Linked DNA regions of Homo sapiens. The protein of the gene in region 2 purifies or fractionates together with the protein of the main gene of each other region. This does not show direct contact. Each region holds a gene or a part of one and is shown on either strand. Other genes may lie near its edges.

Region 1 (7,027 bases), on a different chromosome or scaffold from region 2:
ATGGTTTGGATGTGTGCCTCCTCAAACCTCATGCTGAAATGTGACCTCTAACACTGGAGGTGGGCCTAATAGGAAGTGTTTGGGTCATGGGGGTGGATCCCTCTTGAATGGCTTGGTGCTGTCCTTGTGGTAATGAGTGAACTCTCACTCTATGAGCTCATACGAGAGCTGGTTGTTTAAAAGAGCCTGGCATCTCCCTCTTGCTTACTCTCTTGCCATATGACATGCCTGCTCCCCCTTTGCCTTCCACCAGGATTTAAAGCTTCCTGGGGCTTCCTCAGAGGTAGATGCTGGCACCATGCTTTTTGTACAGCCTGCAGAACTGTGAGCCAGATAAACCTCTTTTGCATAAAAAACTAGGTTTTATGCAAAAGAAATATTAGTTTTACTATTGCTGGTTATATGTTATACATAAGCCTACCACAAACTAAACTGCAAATAAACTGAAATGTAAAATAAAACCAATTTATACTAGTTTCATGTTTTCCTGGATTATAAAACATAATTTTTGACACTGGAAGAAACCATATCATCTACTCCATTTATCACTGAGCTTCAAAATAAAACTGCAACTGAAGCATTAATAAAAGAAAACTATGAATTGACATTTATTTACCAAGAAGACTGGTGCTCTCTGATCAGGTGCTGCAGTGGAGTCTGGTTTATACTGCTGTATTAAGCCTGTGCCCAGTTCTTCCAGAAGCTGCCAAGAAAAAGAATTACCGAAGTGGAGCATCAGAACTAATGAATGACTTCACTTGAGTAACACCTTCACTCTAGTAACACCTTCACTCTAGTAACACCTCCACTCGAGTAACACCTTCACTCGAGTGACACCTTCACTCTAGTAACACCTTCACTTTAGTAACACCTTCACTTGAGTTTGGAGATCGCCTCAAATCAAGGGGAAACATAATTTGCAACTAATTTTCTTTCTTTTTTCAGTCACTGTTAACAGAGGCATTCTTTCAAGGACTGAAATCAACAGCTATATCTTATTAATTTGTTACTGAGTCAATGCGTGGGGTTTATATGTAAGAGCCGAAAACAGAAGAATGCATGTCCTCCTTACCTGAAATCTCTTTAAGAAATCTCAGAATTGAAGGACATGTGGCAGAAGAATATAAAGTGAAGAAAAGGAAGGATATAAAGTGAAGAAAAGGAAGGATATAAAGTGAAGAGAAGGAAAAAGCATTGTGGTTTTGATGAAAATTACCTTTGCTCCATGAAGCTGAATGGATGGATCTGCTTCCCCCATGCACTTGCAAATCACCTCTCCAAGCTCCATCAAGTAGGCTTGAGTCATTGAAAAGTAGCCCCTTGCCAGAAGAGTCAATACCTGCAAAGAGAGCATGGAATTAACCCTCTAAGACCTGAGTGCAAGGCTGCAATATCCAGAAAAGTGTTACAATATTTCAGAAATCGCTTACATTTAACAGGGGCTGAAATCTGTTGAATGAAATTAAGAACCATAATCTTTATTTTGTGACTAACATCAATAAACTGTATCATAGTTTTATGGTGCTTTAGTATATGATTGCTTTTCATTAACAGAATCTCATTTAAGTCTTGGAACTATTCTTTAAAGTAGGTATTAACTGAATTTTACAACTAAAGAACCTAAGCCTGACAAGATGAAAGGACATGCTTCATGCTGCCCAGTTAATCAGCAGCAGACCTCAGGACCAGGCCTAGTCTCAGATCATATTTGTATAGAAAAAGTAAACTCTTTTATCTAGGATTGTTTTCTTCCTTTGAAGGAACAATTATTTTGTTACTCTAAGCAGGTACAAGACCAAGGAAAAGCTTATAGAGAATTAAACATTTAAGTTGCAAAAATCAAAAATTAACTGTACAATTTCACTCAGAATTATTCTACAATCTATTACATCCACTTGTCATATAATACCTGAAGGGACTAAAATAATTTGCAATCAAAGAACAAAAAGGAATGAATCTGCTATTTTACAACCAAAGAACACCTCCCCAAAACAAAACAACAACAAAACAATACACCACCCATACCTAAAATACAATTCCCACGAACACAATTGACATATGGCTTGGTTTTACCTGCTCGCTCCTCACAGTCACTCTGAAGGAGGAATGGTTACTTCCATTTCAGAGATGAGGAAATGAAATCTCCTACCTGTAAGGCCTCCAGTCGCATGGGGGATGGTTCGTAGGTGCTTCCTGCTGCAGAGCCAGCATCGCTACCTGAACAGGAATCCTCCTTGGGCAGTACGACAATGGAAATGCAGAGTCGAATGAGCCAGCAGGGCTCTGAAGACCCCTTAGGTGAGCTAACTGACGTTTCTTCCAGAGAGGGTCCTGCAGGGGCTTTCTTCCACCAATCAGGAGGGCTGAGGTGAGGGGTTGCTGAATTGCTATTACCGAGTCCAGAAGAACATGGCTGTTGCAGAAGTAGTTGGACTTCAGGTAAAGGTGCGTGGGTGGACACTATAGCTCCCAAGAGTGTGAGACTTGACACACGAACATTAACATCTGTCAAAGGAAGCAGTAAGAACTTATCATCATGGCAACAACTACTGTAAAGATGGTAGTTATCCCAGCAGGCAATTAAAAATTAGTAGTTCCTTGTGTAACCTGAATCTAATCAAACTTCTAGACCTCATTTCCAGTTTGGAAATACATGGGACAGGAGAGTAAGTTAACACCATAAAGAAACAATCTGACAAATTGAGAATGTGATTTATTTTGTTATCTTTGGTGACAGAGCTTAGAGTTCACATTCTATAAGACAATTGGGTTGGATTCTTTCCTAAGTCAGTTTGATATAAAAAAGATGGGTGGGGGGACTCTACATTTAAAAAGACTACAGTGACATAATAACTAAATGCAATGCATGTACCTTGAATGAACCCCGGATTTTAACAAGAAATATTTTTAAAAAGCTAAAAGGTCTGTGTCTAGACTCATTTTTTTTTTTGCATGTGATGTCCAGCTGTTCCAGCACCAATTGTTGAAAAGTATCTGCTCCTTTGTTGTAGATCAGTTGACTATATTTATGTGGGTCTATTTCTGGGCTCTCTATTCTGTTCCATTGATCTGTTTGTCTCTTCCTTGGCCAGTATCACACTGTCTTAATTACTGTAGTTTTATAGTAGATTTTGAGGTCAGGGAATGTCAGTCCTTCAGTTTTGTTCTTCTCTATCAATATTGTGTTGGCTATTCCAGGTCTTTTGCATATCCATATATATTTCAGAATCAGTTCATTGATATCTGCAAAATAACTTGCTGGAATTTTGATTGAGACTGCACTGAATCTATAGATCAAGTTGGGAAGAAGTAACATCTTCACAATATTGAGCCTTCCTATCCAGGAATATGGAATCTCTGTCCATTCATTTAGTTCTTTATTTGATCAGAGTTTCACAGTTTTCTTCATATAGATCTTGTACATATTTTGTTAGGCTCATACCTAAGAATTTCAGGGTTTGAACATTTTAATGAAAAAAAGTTACTTGAGGATAAAGTCAGATACTTGAAAGGAAACTTTGAGGCATGGTGCACTCTCCTCAGCTGAAGATGCAGATAATGAAAAGTTGGTACAGTGGAATGAGCAGGGGTTGTTCTCATCTTATTTCTGCCATGAATGTGATGGGAAACCTTAGGGTAAGACTTATCTTTCTGGGTCCCTTTTTTACATATTAGTGTAAGTAGTGAACTGGACTTAGTTACATCTCATTATCTCATTTGAGCCTCATAAAAATCTTATGATGTAGTTATAATTCTTGCTGTTAGGAAGAAATTAGGGTTCAGAGAGGGTCATGGCCATGAGATGGCAAAAATGGGAGTGGGATCCAGACCCTTGGATTGACTTCAGGTCCCATGCTCTTCCCACTATGTCACAGAAAACATCCACTATTCCTTCCTTGTTACAATTCTGCCTGAAAAACTGAACTCATCAGAATGTGGTCCGATCTGAAAGCTTGCAAACAAAAGAAAGGCAAATCTACAAAAGGCAAGTGTTTATAGCACAAATACATTATGTGTAGGAGGAAATAATAAGACTGCACTTAGTAAAGATTTGAAGTTCTGGGGTTTTATCTGAACTTCATAGGAAATAACAATAAAGAAGTTAAATTTTGTATTCCAGTTTTTCTTTCCAAAAAGTAGATAATATCTATCTGTCCGTCTGTCTGTCTATCTAACCATCCATCCATCCTCTACCTATGTGTAAGGGATATAAACAATCATACTCCTCAGGGGGGCTGCTTGCACCTGGCTCAATCTTAATTCTAAAGGGATACTCTGGTCACTGCCCTGAGCATTAAACAGGCAAACTTTACAATTAATCCTCTAGCTCACTTCCACTGGGACTTGAGGGGTCAATTCTTGCAACAGCTTATACCCCTGAAAAGTTGAGAAGAATAAGCAGAGATCTCTTAAGAGTTGTAAAAATGCTTTGAATATATACATATATCTATATCTGTATATTTTTACTAATAGTCTGCATCTGACTGATACAAAGAAGCCATCAGTTTTAAGCCACTACAAACCTTTGTGGCGAATATAAGGCTTTATCTGGTTCCAGACTTTGGTCAGCAGGCTGAGTTTTAGACGATCATAAGGTGCATTTGATACTAAATTTGCAAGGCACTGTAAAACACAAAAAGTAGCTCATCAAAAGGCTTGATTAAACCACAGCATAGAACAAATTTTGCAGCATTTAATTAAAAAAGAAAAGTTTTCACACAACTAAAAATTAGCCCCCCTTTTTTTTAATAACACTTGTATTCTCATTGGTACAACTAAAGATAAAGAAGTATTTTTAGCAAATCATTTATTGGGACATACAGAGATTATAGATAAGATCAGACGAGTAGGTACAGACTTCCAAATAGTGTATTTTTAATAAAACTATTACTTAGTTATATTCTTAAGTCAAGTTACTTTTGAGCTATGTAAAACAGTATACAAAATTAAAACAGAGAAGCCTGCTCTGGAACCCACAGTTGGTACATTACCTTAATTATCTGAGTAACGGTCTGTGAGGATGACTCCGCCACCAAAGCTAACAAAAGACATCTGTGCAACTCTCTAATGCTGCAAGCGATCATTACGGAGAAGGGGGTAAAAGCCCTTCTGTGGTCACTGGTATCTTCAGCAACAGAAAGAAACTGCTTTGAGCCTTCCAAGATGGCAGATAAAACTTGCAGAGCACAGGCACGTGTCTGAAATTTCGGGATGATTCACATTGATTAGTTGAAAATTAGGAGTCAGATTCCCTTCTTCCTATACATATTTAATGTTCAAAGTATTTACAATCATTTTAATTGGAAGAATAAAGGCAATGGGATTATCTGTTAGTTCCTAAAAACTAGGCCACTTGCGTCCCACACCTAAAAAAAAATCTTTATTTTATTTTTATTTTAGAGACACAGTCTCGCTCTGTCACCTAGGCTGCAGTGCAGTGGCGCAATCATAACTCACTGCAGCCTCAAACTCCTGGGCTCAAGCAATCCTCCCACGTCAGCCTCCCAAGTAGCTAGGACTACATGTGTGCCACCACACCTGGCTAAAAAAAAATCTAGAAACCCATTGCTGTTAGGTGTTTTACAGTAAGAAATAAATCTAAGCTACACCATAGCACAAAAATCTGAAATCCTAAGCATGAGAATAAGAATTAGAGGCCTGGTTTATTCAAGCAGAATGCCAACTGAAAAGTTAGAACTAAACAGCCCATGGGGTAGAAAAAACACATGTGCCTAGAGTCTGTTTCCTATTAAAGTTCCTGAGAACATTATGCCTCATATTCCACTCTGAAGTATGTGTGTTCAATGTTAACTTAAATAGGACTTTAGGAACTTTGTGTACATACTGCTTGGCAGACATCATTAGTGATCCAACTTTCAGAAACAGTCTTAGGTACAGGAAATAACACTGCCTGCAGTGACAGTATTTGACAATTCAAAAAAGGAATACCATTAAGTACAATCTTATGAATGGAAAGGACAAAAAGAACATCTTTGTCATGGACTGCTGTATTTGTTAGGAAAGGTGTCACTGGCACCAAGATTTTCTTTATAAGGTTGAAAGATTACTTTCAATTGGTACTCAGATGATTTTGTAGTATTAGAAAGGAAAAGAAAGCCCAACTTTACAAAAATGGGATATAGGTAATAAGCATAGGACTATTAATACGGAATAATATTGTACTCTCTTAGGCCAGCTCATCCAAAAATGATAATTAACATTTTCAGTCAAAAAATTTAAAAGCAGGGAACCAACATTACAATTCTAGAATCTAACCTAAATAGTTACTCAATATGAAGCATATCTGAGTTTGGAGCAAAAAAGGTTTTCCCAAAAGCCTTCAATTATATTATCTCCAAACAACCAGGTAATAAATCACCAGGCAGGCCTTTTATAGAGTGGAGTCGTAGAAATCTAGACTTATTGCTCTGAAGAGAAATTTGAAGTACAGTAGCATCAGACTTCAGAATTAAGCATAATCCCCTAAGGTGGGAAATTGACAATGTATTAGGAAACCGTGTGTATATGTGTGAAAAAACGAGAGAGCGAGAGCATGAACACAAGTCAGCTGATCCAAAAAGGACTTAGATCAGGGGCTGGCAAACTTTTCTGTAAAGAGCCAGCAGTAAACATTTTATATTTTAGACTTTGTGGGCCAGTTTCTGTCACAACCACCCAACTCTGTGATTGTAGCATAGACATGTAAAGGAATAAACGTGGTTGCGTTCCAAAAAGACTTGATTTACGGACAATGCAATCTGAATTCCATATAATTTTCACATATCACGAGATATTATTGTTTTATTTTAAAACCATTTAAAAGTGTAAAAACCATTCTTAGCTAACAGGCTGTACAAAAACAGGTGGTGGGCCAGATTTGCCCTACGGGCCACAGCTGGCCAATCCCTACTAGAGGCTCGTCCGAACTCAACAAGATAGATCTTATGCTAAACCTTCATTTCTTTAGAAGACAATTAAAAATCACAATTCCAACAGCTCACAAACTGAATGAAATTAAAAATCGAAT
Region 2 (7,005 bases):
AGTCCCTTTTCCCCCTACCTCCGTGCAGGTCCTGAGCTGGAAAGCCCAGGAGCCCAGGGCTGATGGGGACCTGTTGCAGGCGAGGGCGACATGAAGATGCACTGCTGCGTGGCCGCCTATATCTCCGACTATGCCTTCTTGGGCACTGCACTGCTGCCTCACCAGTGGCAGCACAAGGTGCACTTCATGGTCTCACTGGACCATTCCATGTGGTTCCACGCCCCCTTCCGAGCTGACCACTGGATGCTCTATGAATGCGAGAGCCCCTGGGCCGGTGAGTGTGGGGCCGTGTGGGACAAGGGCACTGACCTTGAGTGGCAGGAGCCTGCTTTCTTGGGTGATGCTGATTTCCCGACTTCCTGTGTGGCGCTGCACAGGTCACTTCCTTTCCTTCCCTCCCAGGCTTTGGCATCTTCATCTTCAAAATGAGAGGGTGAGGCCGGGACACCTGCTCTGCTCTAAATTTCTAGAATGTGCTGGAAATGTGATTCACCTTCTCCCAGGGACCCAGTTCTAGTCCCAAAACCAGTTCAGATTCTTTGTATTACAATAGGCAAATCATATCTTCCATCTGAACCTCAGTTTCCTCATCTAAACAAAGAGGGTTACATTACAGCAGTGGTATCCAAACCCGCAGTCCATCAGACTGCCATTTGGGGATGCCTTTTCAAAATAGATTCTGATTCCACCCTCAAGATTCTCACTCAGTAGGTCTTGGATAAGGTCCAGGAAACTGTATTTTTAAGTTCTCTAAGTGATTCTGATTAACCTGATTGGGATCGGGGCATTCAGTGGTCCCTAAGGGCCTGCTTGGACCTTCCTTGCAGGGGAGAGAAACAAGACTCGTTCATCAATGTCTAGCTTCAGAACCCTGACCTCCTTTCCAAGGGAGTACATTTCAAATGAAGAAAAGCTTTGCTTGATAAACCAAGGACAAAACTCAAGGATTCTTTATACTCAGATAAGGGGTATTCTCAAGTACCAATAGCATCACAATCCAAGATTGATAACCTTGAAGTGAGGACATGGGTTCAGATTTGGCTTCATCATGGGGCCAAATTCCTGACCCTCTCTGGATTTCAGTCCTGGTCTGGAAAACTGGACAACACATAACTGCTTCATTTGGCTACTGTGAGAACTGAGTGAGCTCTGCTATGTGTAAGGGAAACCAGCAATCATCCTCATAAACATCAAACTTGGGCCCAAAGCCAGCAAGGGAGAAAGAGTCTCCAGATGGGGAGGGAAGAGGCCAGACCTCATGGCCTCAAGTCCTCTCTTCTGAGTCCTTTCTTCCCCTTGGTGGTGGTAGTGGGGATATTTTTCATGAATTACCACTTGGAGGACCTGGCTTGATTTATTATACAGGGAGCCGATAGTTTTCCTAACACAAGTGGTCAGAGGTACAGCAGTTCTGCTTGGCCGAGCTGTTGAAGGAGACTGTTCTCAGAGCTCCTCCCTCTGTGATCTTTTTGAGGAAGCGAGGAGAGGTGTGAAAGTGCTTTTAAACTGTCAACTGGGGTTCCTGTGGGAGGAGTTACCCCTCAATGACGGTCCATAATAAGCTCATGAAGGGGCATTTGGAGCAGCCACGACACTCAGTGCACCCTTGTGTGGGGCAGCCCTGCCCTGGGCCAGACCCTTTGCAAGAAGTCCACTTGGAGGTTGGGCATGGTGATGTGCGCCTGTAATCCCAGCTGCTCAGGAGGCTGAGGCGGGAGGATCCCTTGAACCCAGGCGCTTGAGACCAGCCTGGCAACTTAGTGAGACTCTGTTTCAGGAAAAAAAAAAAAAGTGTATTTGGCTGTTCTGAAGCAGGCCATCATCACCCTTCACCTCACCCACAGGTGGCTCTCGGGGGCTGGTCCATGGGCGGCTGTGGCGTCAGGATGGAGTCCTAGCTGTGACCTGTGCCCAGGAGGGCGTGATCCGAGTGAAGCCCCAGGTCTCAGAGAGCAAGCTGTAGCCAGAGGTACCAGCTTCGCCTGGGGCTTCAAGAACCTCCCATCTATCCCCATTCCTGAGACAGGAGTTACAGTCCCTTTTGGCCCTCACATCCAATAAAGAGACTGATACCACTGGAGTGGCTGGCTTTTAATTCCCCTGGGCCAGACCTGCAGCCTTGCCTTCATCCCTTAACTCCAGGACTCCAGGGGCAGAGTCCCTGGCCTTCAGCCAAGAGGCCTTGCCAGCTTGGGGGCCCACCAACAAGGGAACATTGCCCCAACCTGTGCCACAGCCCCCCGGCTGTTTATAGGCTGGAGAGGCTGTGTCAGACTTCCCTGTACTACACAAGGGCAACCCCAGCCAAAGCTCACCCTGAGCCTAGCTCAACAGAAGTTTCCTTGATCTGCTTCACATTCTCTTTTGGAACTTCTAGGGGCTCCCAGCACCCTCTGCAGCCTCCCAGCTATTCTGTTCTCATCAGGTCCTTCCCCTGCCTTCTGGGGCAACCCCTCTCCTCACAGTGGCCTTAAATCTAGGCAAGGGTTAGTCCAGCACCTCCTTGATGAGCAATTCTTTGAGACTGGGGGGTGGTGTGGGGGTAAGGCCTGCCTCCTGCAGGGCTTGGAGCCGAGCCTCTGATTGACGTTTGTCCAGGCCCAGGCGCCAGGAGAGCCGGACATGGGCCTCCAGAAAGGGTGCCAGCAAAGGGTGGAGGCTCTTGTCCCCAAGCAGCTGCAGGGCCTTCTCACAGCATGCCCGGGCCTCTCCAGGGTCTTCCAGCTCCTGGTGGCACACGGCCAGCCCAGCCAGGGTCAGCAGGGGGCGGTCTGGGCCAGAGGGGGTGCCCAGCTGGGCTTGCAGCTGCCAGGCATTGGCCCAGAGTGCCAGAGCCTCACGATAGAGGCCAGTACAGGTGAGGCTCTGTGCCCGCCGCAGCTCCGGCAGCACGAAGAAGTCCTGCAGGTCCGGGGCATGGCGCAGCTCAGGCACTGCCTGCAGGTGACCCAAAAACTGCTCAAAGGCCCGGCTACGGCGGGCAATGGTCTCTGCAGTAAAATTCCGGCGCAGCCGCTTACGGGGGAAGGAGATGGCAGCCATTGGGCCCCGGAATTGCCGCTGCAGGTTTCGGTGCAGCCGCTCAAAGTCCGAGTAACGGCGAGAGATCTGGGCTGGCTGGCAATCTGGCGGTCCTGGGCCGATCACGGCGAGGGTGTAGAGCTGCAGGGAGGGTGGGTGTCAGGGCAAATGCAAGTTGTCCACGGGCCCGTTCCCTCCCCATCCTTCCCCATCCCCCACACTCCCAGCTGTACCTCCCCACCTCTTCCTTTCACCCCTGGGACAGCACCCAGGAGGGCGGGAGCTGCTGCGCAGTGGCGGGGAAGCCCAGTCCCATCTTACCTGAGGTTTGTCTGAAATGACCCAGGCCCAAGGCAGCAAGAAGAGAGAAAGACAGAGATGAGCTTCAGTGCCCGGGGCTGCTGCCCCTTTTTTTGTACTCCCTTCCCATAGAGCATTAGTTCTTCTGACAGCCCCCTCTGGAAAACCAGACATAAGCTGAAACCCCAGCCAATCTCTTGGGGCTCCTTTAGGACCAGCTTGGAGCTTGTTCCACTTTGGACACCTGGCCTCCACATCCCTGGTCAGGCTTTTCCAAACTAGACCCAGAGGACAGGTCTGTAGATAGCCACAACTGCCATAACTGTGAAAAGTATACTGGCCTAGGACTCAAGTTCTAACCCCAGGTCAGCTACTCCTTCTCTGTGTGACCCAGGCAAGGGAGTCCCCCTCTGGGTCCACTTCTGTTTCTAGTGAAGGAAGTGCTCGGTCAAGTCAGTGTTTGTCCAAAAATGAGACATGTACAAGTATTGGTACCTGAGGTTTTTAGGTGGTGTGCACTAGAGTAAATATCACTGTATCAGGAGGTTGGTCCCCTTTTAATTATTATTTTTTGAGACAGGGTCTCACTGTTGGCCAGGTTGGAGTACACTGGTACAATCATAGCTTACTGCAGCTTCAACCTCCTGGGCTGAAGCATTCCTCCTGCCTCAGCCTCCCAAGTAGCTAGGACTATAGGCATGCACCACCACACTCAGCTATTTAAAAAAATTTTTTTTTTTTTTTTTGTATGGAGATGAGGGGGGGTCTCACTATGTTGCTAGGGCTGGCCTTGAACTCCTGGCCTTGAACAATCTTCCTAGCTAGGCTTCCCAAAGTGCTAAGATTACAGGCATGAGCACCACACCCAGCCTAATTGTTTTTTAATCTTTCTGACTACAAATTGAGAAGCTCTCAGTTTGGTTTTGTTGGGGTTTTTTTATTTTTTTATTTTTTTTGAGACGGAGTCTCGCTCTGTTGCCCAGGCTGGAGTGCTGGAGTACAGTGGCACGATCTCGGCTCACTGCAAGCTCCGCCTCCTGGGTTCACTCCATTCTCCTGCCTCAGCCTCCCGAGTAGCTGGGACTACAGGCGCCTGCCACTACGCCCGGCTAATTTTTTGTATTTTTTAGTAGAGACGGGGTTTCACTGTGTTAGCCAGGATGGTCTCGATCTCCTGACCTTGTGATCCGCCCGCCTTTGCCTCCCAGAGTGCTGGGATTATAGGTGTGAGCCACCGCGCCTGGCCAGCTCTCAGTTTGGTTTTAAAAAAAGGACTTCTTGGGCAGGTTGCAGTGGCTCACACACACACCTGTAATCTCAGCACTTTGGGAGGCTGAGGCAGGTGGATCACCTGAGGTTGAGAGTTCGAGACCAGGCTGACCAACATGGAGAAACCCTGTCTCTACTAAAAATGCAAAATTAGCCAGGCGTGGTGGCACATGCCTGTAATCCCAGCTACTTGGGAGGCTGAGGCAGGAGAATTGCTTGAACCTGGGAGGTGGAGGTTGTGGTGAGCCGAGATTGCTCATGGCACTCGAGCCTGGGCACCAAGAGTGAAACTCTCTCTCAAAAAAAAAAAAAAAAAGTACTTCTCTAACACTTCTCATCTCCATTTTTAGAAAAGAGTCAGAAAGTGGATCTCAGGTCAGGGCCTCCTTCAGGCAACAACATCTAGGCAAGATTTAATGACGTTTCATTTTCACTACTTACTTATTTACTTTATTTATTTATTTAGTCTCGCCCTGTCGCCCAGGCTGGCATGCAGTGGCACAATCTCCGCTCACTGCAACCTCTGCCTCCTGGGTTCAAGCAATTCTCCTGCCTCAATCTCCCGAGTAGCTGGGATTACAGGCGCCTACCACCACATCCGGCTAATTTTTGTATTTTTAGTAGTGTCGGGGTTTCACCGTGTTGGCCAGGCTGGTCTTGAACTCCTGACCTCAGGTGATCTGCCCACCTCAGCCTCCCAAAGTGCGGGGATTACAGGTGTGAGCCACCGTGCCTCACCTTTTATTTTTATGGCTAGCTTCTCTCGGTGGCAAGTGAGACTTTCCACGTACGGTAGTGCTATGAAGTTGTCTTTTAAAATTACTTAAAGGATGGGCACAGTGGCTCATACCTGTAATCCCAGTACTTTGGGAGGCTGAGGCAGGAGAACAGCTTAAGGCCAGGAGTTCGAGACCAGCCTGGGCAACATGGCAAGACCCTGTCTCTAAAAAAAAGAAAAAGAAAAAGAAAAAGAATTAGTTGGGCACTTGTGGTCCCAGCTACTCAGGAGGCTGAGGCAGAGAATCATGTGAGCCCACGAGTTCAAGGCTGCAGTGAGCTATGATCACGCCACTGCACTCCAGCCTAGGCGACAGAGCAAGACTCCGTCTCGATAAACTTATTTAAGAAAAAAAATAGGTTCGGCTGGGCGTAGTGGCTCACACCTGTAATCCCAACACTTTGGGAGGCTGAGGCGGCAGATCACTTGAGGTCAGGAGTTCAAGACCAGCCTGGCCAACAGTGAAACCCCATCTCTACTGAAAATGCAAAAGTTAGCCAGGCATGGTGGTGGGCACCTGTAATCCTAGCTACTCAGGAGGCTGAGGCGGGAGGATTGCTTGAACCTAGGAGGTGGAGGTTGCAGTGAGCTGAGATTGCACCACTGCACTCCAGCCTGGGCAACAGAGCAAGACTCTGTCTCAAAAAAGAAAAAAAAAAAGATAAAGAAAAAAAAATAGGTTCATTTAAAGAAAAATGTTAAGAAGAAAAGGACACAAGTGGCATTTTTAGATAGGACAAGAATCAGGGAGGTATTGGAATGACTGAGGTTTGGAAAACACTGAACAAGATGATCACGAAGTTCCCCGCCTCCCAGGTCTGAGAACCTGAATATGGATTAACCTATAATGCCAAGCCAACAGGTTTAAAAGGAGAGTTAACCAGTGTTAGATGTTAAAGGCACCCTAACACCAAATCCAGATCTTTCTCTCACATTTGTTCTGTGGAACTGACAATACTCTAGCCACTCCTGGTCAGTTAGGTTTGCTTACTCTGTCCTCTTGAAGATTCACAGTGTATATCACTATTAGGGATTAAATACTTTAACAATAAAGAAACTTATTGTATTCTCATTTAACTCTGCATTCTCAAAACATATTGCCTGCAAAACCTTTATTTAGAAACAGCTATTAACATTCCAGGGAACTAGTTTTCTGCAGGACACACTTTAGGACACCAGTTTTCTTCAGGACACACTGGTCTATATAATAAGCCTTTATGTTCATCTAGTTTACATTTTGTATCCATTATCTCATTGACCTTGTAACATGCAGCCAGATGGGTGATAATGACAGTAGTTCCATTACCCAAGCATTTACCCTGTGCCTCCTGTTGTACCAAGCACTCTTTACATCTGTGATTTCATTTAATCATCACAACAGCACTGCAAGGAAGGTCCTTATCTCTGACAGCTGAGGAAGCAGGCTCAAAGAGGGGGAAAAGGGCTCAAAGACTTGCCGTAAGTCACACAGCTGGAAAACAGCCCAGCTGGGATTTAAACTCAGGTTGATCTGATTCCAAAGCCTGTGCTCTTCACCCCCACAAGTTGAGTGGGGAATTAGGGTCCCCATTGTACACAGGAGGTGCCTTGCTTCTCCAGACACAGGCCGGGGCATACTTGGCCATCCTGCTCTATCT
Region 3 (7,027 bases), on a different chromosome or scaffold from region 2:
ATTTCTATTAAGACTTTTAAACACGTTCCATGGCTGAACTAAACAGTGTAACAGTCTTTTCCTTTCTTATTTTTGTTTTCTCTTTTTTTAAAGGCTGTTGTGGCCAGGCACTGTGGTTCAGAGGCCAAGAAGGAAGGATCACGAGACCAGAAGTTCAAGACCAGCCTGGGCAACATAGCAATAGCCAGTCTCTTAAAAAGAAAAAAGGCAGCTGGGAGTGGTGGTGCAGGTCTGTAGTCCCAGCTACTCGGTAGGCTGATGTGGGAAGTTTGCTTGAGCCCAGGAGATGGAGGGTGCAGTGAACCATGATCACACCGCTACACTCCAGCCAGGGTAACAGAGCAAGACCCTCTCTTAAAACAAAGTATTCACCCTTACAACTTGTAGCACAGATACTTTAAAGTCTTGGTCCATGTCACCTTGAGGTTGGTGTCTGCTGTCTTTTCCTTTGAGATGTTAAGATTTTCCTGGTTTTGAGTATGTTGACTAATTTAGGATGGCATCCTGGATATTTTGACATGTTACATCATTCTAGGTCTTGATTTTTAAAAACTTTCAGCAGACAATCTGGTTTGGTTTAGGCTTCAAGTTTTTACTCAATGTTTCTAGGTTGTGTTATGGTTCCAGTGTCAGGTTTGTTATGAACTCCTTTGCTATGTTATTTGCATCTGCCCCACTTATTTGCCACCCAATGGCCAGGCTGGCCCTGGAGAGGCAGTCTATTGTGTATTCTAGTTTTCAAAGCCTCTGATGTGCTGTTTAGGGTCAGATCCATGCAAAATGGCTAAGGAGTGTTCATATAAAACTTTATAGGTTTACTTTCTTCAACCTTCCATAATCTCTCTGACAATGCCTGACTCACATAGGGGATAGGGGAAGGACTCTTCTTCATCCACTACCTATAAAAATAGGGCTTTGGCCGGGCGCAGTGGCTCACGCCTGTAATCCCAGCACTCTGGGAGGCAGGAGGATCACAAGGTCAGGAGATCAAGACCATCCTGGCTAACAAGGTGAAACCCCGTCTCTACTAAAAATAAAAAAAAAAAAAATTAGCTGGGCATGGTGGCGGGCACCTGTAGTCCCAGCTACTTGGGTGGCTGCGGCGGGAGAATGGCATGAACCCGGAAGGCGGAGCTTGCAGTGAGCCGAGATCGTGTCACTGCACTCCAGCCCTGGCTACAGAGCAAGACTCTGTCTCAAAAACAAACAACAAACAAAAAATGATTCCCTTCTCTCGTTGTTTTAGACATCTGCCTAACTGCCACAGCTGCTAAAGGCCTACAAGAGGATTGGGGCAGAATAGAACAAAACAAAAGCAAAAAAGAGATTTCTTCCACTCTGATTCAAAGGGGCCTCTCATTCTTTCTTTGCAGAGGAGAACTAGAGAGCCTTTCTTGGAACTATTTTTGCCTGCCCCTACTTTTCAGTTCTGGGTTTCTGGCAAGCCCAGGAGAAATCAGCGAGGAGATACCACAGGGGAAAAAAAACAGGAAATTCACTGCTGGTTCAGTGGAATTTAAAGTTCTGGCTTTCTTCTCCATTTCACCTGCTAAAATTTACTTCTCAGAGTCCTTGGATAGCTGCTCAACAATGCATTCTGTCCAGGGTTTATTAATTGCATTTTAATAAGAGAAGACAGTGTAGCATGCTTCTTCTGTAATGGCAGAGAAATAACCTTTTGTTTTCTGAGCCAGTCTCACTGTCACCCAGGCTGGAGAACAATGGCACAATCACAGCTCACTGCAGCCTTGGCCTCCCATGCTCAAAGAGATCCTCCCACCTCAGCCTCCCAAGTAGCTGGGACCACAGGGCATGTATCACTACACCTTACTAATATATTTTTAATTGTTTTGTAGAGATGAGGTCTCCCTATGTTGCCCAGGTTGGTCTCAAACTCCTGGGCTAATGAGATCCTCCCATCTCAGCTTCCCAAAGTGCTAGGATTATAGGCACGTGCCAACCCATTGGCTTCAAAATGCTCTTATACTCACTCATCATCAGTTAATAAAATTCTCCATTCAAACCTTTCCTCAACTAATAGTAATGCTCCGGTAATCAGAATTTTTCAATCATAGTATCAAAAGAAAGCAATTACTTTAAGCAACCTAGGACAAACAGTTAAACTGTCTATCAACCTAGTGATGATAAAGGCATTTACCAGAGCTACTAAGCTCAAGAAAAATAAATCAGAGGGCAAAATAGACGAAAGAAAAAAGTAGTCAATACAATGCTATACATGTACATAAAAGAGGTGAAAAACTCTGCAACAGCTGAAAATTTCAGCACAAATTATTTCTATCACATTTCTGTGGGAAAAAATGGCCTGCTTTTGTAAATAAAGCTCTACTGGAACCTAGCCACACCCATTCATTTATACATTGACTATGGTTATTTTCTCCCTATAAGGGCAGAGCTGAGTAATTGCAACAGACTGTCTGCCTTGCAAAATTTAAAATTTACTCCCTAGTCCTTTACAGAAAGTTTGCTGACTCTTGTTTTGGAGGAAAGGTTTTCAGTGGTCTGCTTTCTGATCAAATTAATGATGGAAAAGACAAAGTGCTTTATACAGTCGACAGAGCCATTTTTAAAATTAGGTTGCAGTGAGCCAAGATCGTGCCACTGCACACCAGCCTGGGCGACAGAGTGAGACTGTGTGTCAAAAATAGAAAAGATAGTATTAAGCTAGAATGTTTTATCAGGCTCAGTAGTGATAGTGGTCTTGTCTCTGCTTCACTCCCAAGTACACTACAAACTGAGACTTTGAAGCACTAGTCTATTATAAACTATTTATAAAACTGATCTATTTGGCAATCCTTGCTATTTAAAGAGTCAATAAATCAAATTGATGGATATAAAGCAGAATCAAGAGAAGCAAGATAGCAAGATGATTTTGGGATTTGTTCACATTACAGCTCACGTAATACTGATCTAGTCATTAGAAATTATTATAAAGCTATTCAAGCACACAATTTTTTTTTTTTTTGAGATGCAGTCTTGTTCTGTCACCTAGGCTGGAGTGCAGTGGTATGCTATCAGCTCACTGCAAACTCCGCCTCCCAGGTTCAAGCAAGTCTCCTGCCCCAGCCTCCCGAGTAGTTGGGACTGATTACAGGCATCTGCCACCATGTCAGGCTAATTTTTTTTTTGTATTTTTAGTAGAGAAGGTGTTTCACCATGCTGGCCAGGCTGGTCTCGAACTCCTGACCTCAAGCAATCCACCCGCCTCGGCCTCCCAAAGTGCTGGGATTTGGGATTACAGGCATGCACCACCATGCCTGGCCCGAAGCACACAATTCTTAGGTGGTTATAAAACACAAAGAAATATGTAGATTGAGTATTTCCTGATTTGAATTCCTTTTTCTCATCTTAAATGCCACCTCTCTGATCTAACTCAGTGGTTCTCAACTTGTAGTAATTTTGCCACCCAGAAGACATGTGGCAACATTTGGAGACATTTTTTATCACAACTGGGGTGGTGGTGGTGTTGCCAGCATGCAGTGGATAGAGGCCAGGGACACTGCTACACACGGTATAATTAACAGGATAGTCATTGACAACAGTGAATTATCTGAATCAAAATGTCAAGAATGCTGAGGTTGAGATACCCTAATTTCACTTAAAGACTAGATACTAAAATATTAAATATAATCAGAGATCATGATAAATGATCCCAAAGAAAAATAGATGTTCTATATTAATAACAGCACACAAATTGTATGTCTGAAAAACAACACTTTAGTGGCATGCCACATTTTATATTTAAAACATTTTCTTAGAGGCTGAGGTCTAATAAAAATAGAATTTAGAAATGTCTACAGGGACAAGATAATTATATTATAACAAGACTTCTCTATGTCGCCTGATTAAATGCATTTTGGGAGCCCGAGGCAGGCGGATCACTTGAGGTCAGGAGTTCAAGACCAGCCTGACCAACATAGCGAAACCCGCCTCTAGTAAAAATACCAAAATTAGCCAGGTGTGGTGGCGCAGGCTTGTAGTCCCAGCTACTCGTGAGGCTGAGGCAGGAGAATCACTTGAACCCAGGAGGCGGAGGCTACAGTGCACCAAAAATCACACCACTGCACTTCAGCCTGGGAGACAGAGCAAGACAAGCGTGTCTCAAAAAAAGAAGTAAATGACTGAGCTCAACTATCTTGAACAAGAGTCCCAAGCCTACATAACAGGGAAAAACATCGCTTCCACAAATAGTGCTGGGAAAAAATGGATGTCCACATGCAAACAAAATTAAGTTGGACTTTTACCTTACATCATAAACAAAAATTAACTCAAAATGGATCAACAACCTAAACATTAACAGCGAATAAAACTCCTAGAAGAATACATAGGGTAAATGCTTCAGGGCATTACATTTGGCAATGATTTCTTGGATATGACATACAATAAAATCAAAAACAGACAAATGGAACTTGAAAACCTAAAATGTAAACATTTCTATACATCAAAAGAAACGAGTGAAAAGACAACCTACAGAATAAAATACTTGCAAGTCACCTCATAAGGGGTCAATATCCAAAGCAAAAGACACACCTACACACAACTCAACAAAAAGTGATTAAAAAATGGACAAAGGGACCAGGGGCGATGGCTCAATCACTTGAAGTCAGGAGTTCAAGACCAGCCTAGCCAACATGGCGAAACCCTGTCTTTTACTAAAAATACAAAAATTAGCCAGGCATCGTGGTGCATACCTGTAGTACCCACTATTAGGGAGGCTGAGGCAGGAGAATCATTTGAACCTGGGAGGCGGAGGTTGCAGTGAGCTGAGATGGCACCACTGCACTCGAACCTGGGTGACTGAGACTGTCCAAAAAAAAAAAAGACCAAGAACTTAAATACAGAAGGATCCCATTAGTGCAGGGTTATGCTCTAATCACCTGAAAACTCAATACATAGATGCTATTCCCATACCCAGTTAGGTCAGACACTTTCTGAGGATGATGCCTGCAAATTTTTATTTGAAAAGCTTCCAGGTCATTAGATTACTCATTACTTCCTAATGTAAAACCAGCTGGTTTCAGAGTTCAGGTAATTTATCCAAAGTCACTGCAGCTTCTCAATTCTGCTCTTACCTCATATTTTTAGGTCTGTTTTAGAGGCTCTCATTACAGTACATTCATCAGGGTGCCTCTACCCCAGGTAGTAAGCAGTCTTTAGGTAAAAGGCATCCTAAAACCAGATCATTCTTGAGTAAAGCTAGACTGACCAGAAGTTAGATTCTGAGGGTGCCTTCCTGCGGCAGTGAATTCAGATAACCTGAGAAATAAGCCTCCTCCCTTTTGTTCAAAGATATGAACCTATTATCATCACATTATTGTTTCTCTATCTCAAATTTTTACCCCAAATCGGGATACTCCTCTCAGTTTTCTGCTACTTTCAACATGTGCTTCTTAAAGATACATGGTTTGTAAACAACAGTTGAAATATTTTCGTTGTTGTTGAGAGGGTTTCACTCTGCCACCAGATGGAGCGCACTGGTGCAATCTCATTTCGCTGCAGCCTCGATCCCCCAATGGCTCAAAAAAATCCTCCCACCTCAGCTTCCCGAGTGGCTGGGATGCAGACACGCACCAGGATGGACCAGCACGCACAGATAATTTTTCAATTTTTTTTGTAGAGTCAGGATTTCACTATGTTGCCCAGACTGGGCTCTCAAACTCCTTGGTCTCTCAGAGTGCTGGGATTAGACATGAGCCACCAAGCCCAGCCATGAAACCTTTTTGAAACTGCTGGGAGGAATGTAACGAGAAGCTTTATTCTTTAGCAGGAAGCATTTCTACTCTGAAACATTACACTAAAAGGTTTTTTGGCAACGGGTTGTAAATTCCTTCAATGTAAATTATTGATATTGCAATAATGCTGCATAATGATGTAGTCAAATAAGTCATGAGTTTGGGGAAAGTTAAGCTGAGGTATGACTATCTTTACAACTGCCCCAATCCTTTACTAAAAATTATGTTTTAGTTTATAAAATCTGAGTAAAGCACAGTAATAGGATTTCCAGTCCTGAAAAATCATTCTTTTCTCAGCAAAATTTTCTATTTTCTAACAGATTTCCTTCTTACTACTCTCACCCTCCCTAAAGCTGCCATGTCTTATAAAAAGCTTTTGTTTGTTACAGCACTTTGATCCAACAACTAAACCATTTTTTAAATGGTCACTGATTTTTATTCAACATCCGTAAAATCTGAAAAATCAGAGAAAACTGCAGGTTACCCCTAAGAAACCGCCTCTCCCTTAATTGTCCTTTATTCATCTGGATATACCTGGACTGCTGCTTTTCTCCAACAGTATTGTTTAACCCAAGCTATATCATAAAAGATTTTTCTTTGTTAAATTTCTCAGTATTACATAATTTGTTCACTTAAGATAAAATATCTTAAATGGTCTACAAGAGGGAAGCAGTGTTTAGTAAAAAGGTGTACATTCAGAAAAGATTCCAAGCATTAAAGCTTGGACTGATGAGCCAAGTTTGTTTAAAGTGTATTCCCTCACACCACACACAAAATCAATTCCAGATGGATTGCAGATCTAAATATGAAAGGTAAATATCGTGTAGGAGAAAAAAATATTTCAGACTTTGGGATGAGAAAACCGAGGGAAGTATGTTGTTTCCCAGAAGAATGCGTGAAAAAAGTTGGATATTTTCTCCCTTGAATTATACAGAACACTCCAGTGAAATCATCTGGGCCTAGATGATTGACTGATTCAAGTTATTTAGGTGTTCTAGGACTGTTTTGGGTTCTCCATTTCTTCTTGCATTAGTTTTGGAAAGCTATTTTTCCAGGATTTTTTTCTCCCTCATATCCTTATCTTGTTATCCTTGTCTTTAGCATCAATACTAATGCTCTCTTTGGACATTTAAGCCTTTCATTCTCTTAATCGTTTTTATGTCCCTATGTTTATTATGCTTTATAAACAGATTTGTTTAATTCCATCTGTTCATCTTTTAACCTACTTTTAGTTTATTCACATCTTAATAGAGCCCAGGAGGTCAAGGCTGCAGTGA

What was found.
Region 1: the proteins of SNX21 (region 2) and HEATR6 purify together in Homo sapiens (co-immunoprecipitation; 3 studies listed by BioGRID and IntAct, with this or other methods). This does not show direct contact.
Region 3: the proteins of SNX21 (region 2) and AMD1 purify together in Homo sapiens (affinity purification with mass spectrometry; 2 studies listed by BioGRID and IntAct, with this or other methods). This does not show direct contact.

Annotation. Positions count from the first base shown.
Region 1 is NC_000017.11:60,054,899-60,061,925, forward strand, and holds part of HEATR6 (HEAT repeat-containing protein 6), read right to left. Parts: intron 5,199-7,027; coding exon 4,992-5,198; intron 4,624-4,991; coding exon 4,524-4,623; intron 2,506-4,523; coding exon 2,150-2,505; intron 1,340-2,149; coding exon 1,217-1,339; intron 704-1,216; coding exon 617-703; intron 1-616. UniProt on the Homo sapiens protein: Amplification-dependent oncogene.
Region 2 is NC_000020.11:45,836,796-45,843,800, reverse strand, and holds the end of SNX21 (sorting nexin-21), read right to left. Parts: exon of another isoform or gene 6,466-7,005; intron 5,534-6,465; coding exon of another isoform or gene 5,410-5,533; exon of another isoform or gene 5,269-5,409; intron 4,322-5,268; exon of another isoform or gene 3,496-4,321; coding exon of another isoform or gene 3,343-3,495; intron 3,163-3,342; coding exon 2,488-3,162; 3' UTR 1,964-2,487; coding exon of another isoform or gene 1,845-1,963; 3' UTR 1,769-1,844; coding exon of another isoform or gene 1,758-1,768; 3' UTR 525-1,757; downstream 1-524. Other genes in the region: ACOT8 (acyl-coenzyme A thioesterase 8), read left to right, coding at 80-274, 1,845-1,963. UniProt on the Homo sapiens protein: Binds to membranes enriched in phosphatidylinositol 3-phosphate (PtdIns(P3)) and phosphatidylinositol 4,5-bisphosphate. May be involved in several stages of intracellular trafficking.
Region 3 is NC_000006.12:110,877,781-110,884,807, reverse strand, and holds part of AMD1 (S-adenosylmethionine decarboxylase proenzyme), read right to left. Parts: intron 1-7,027.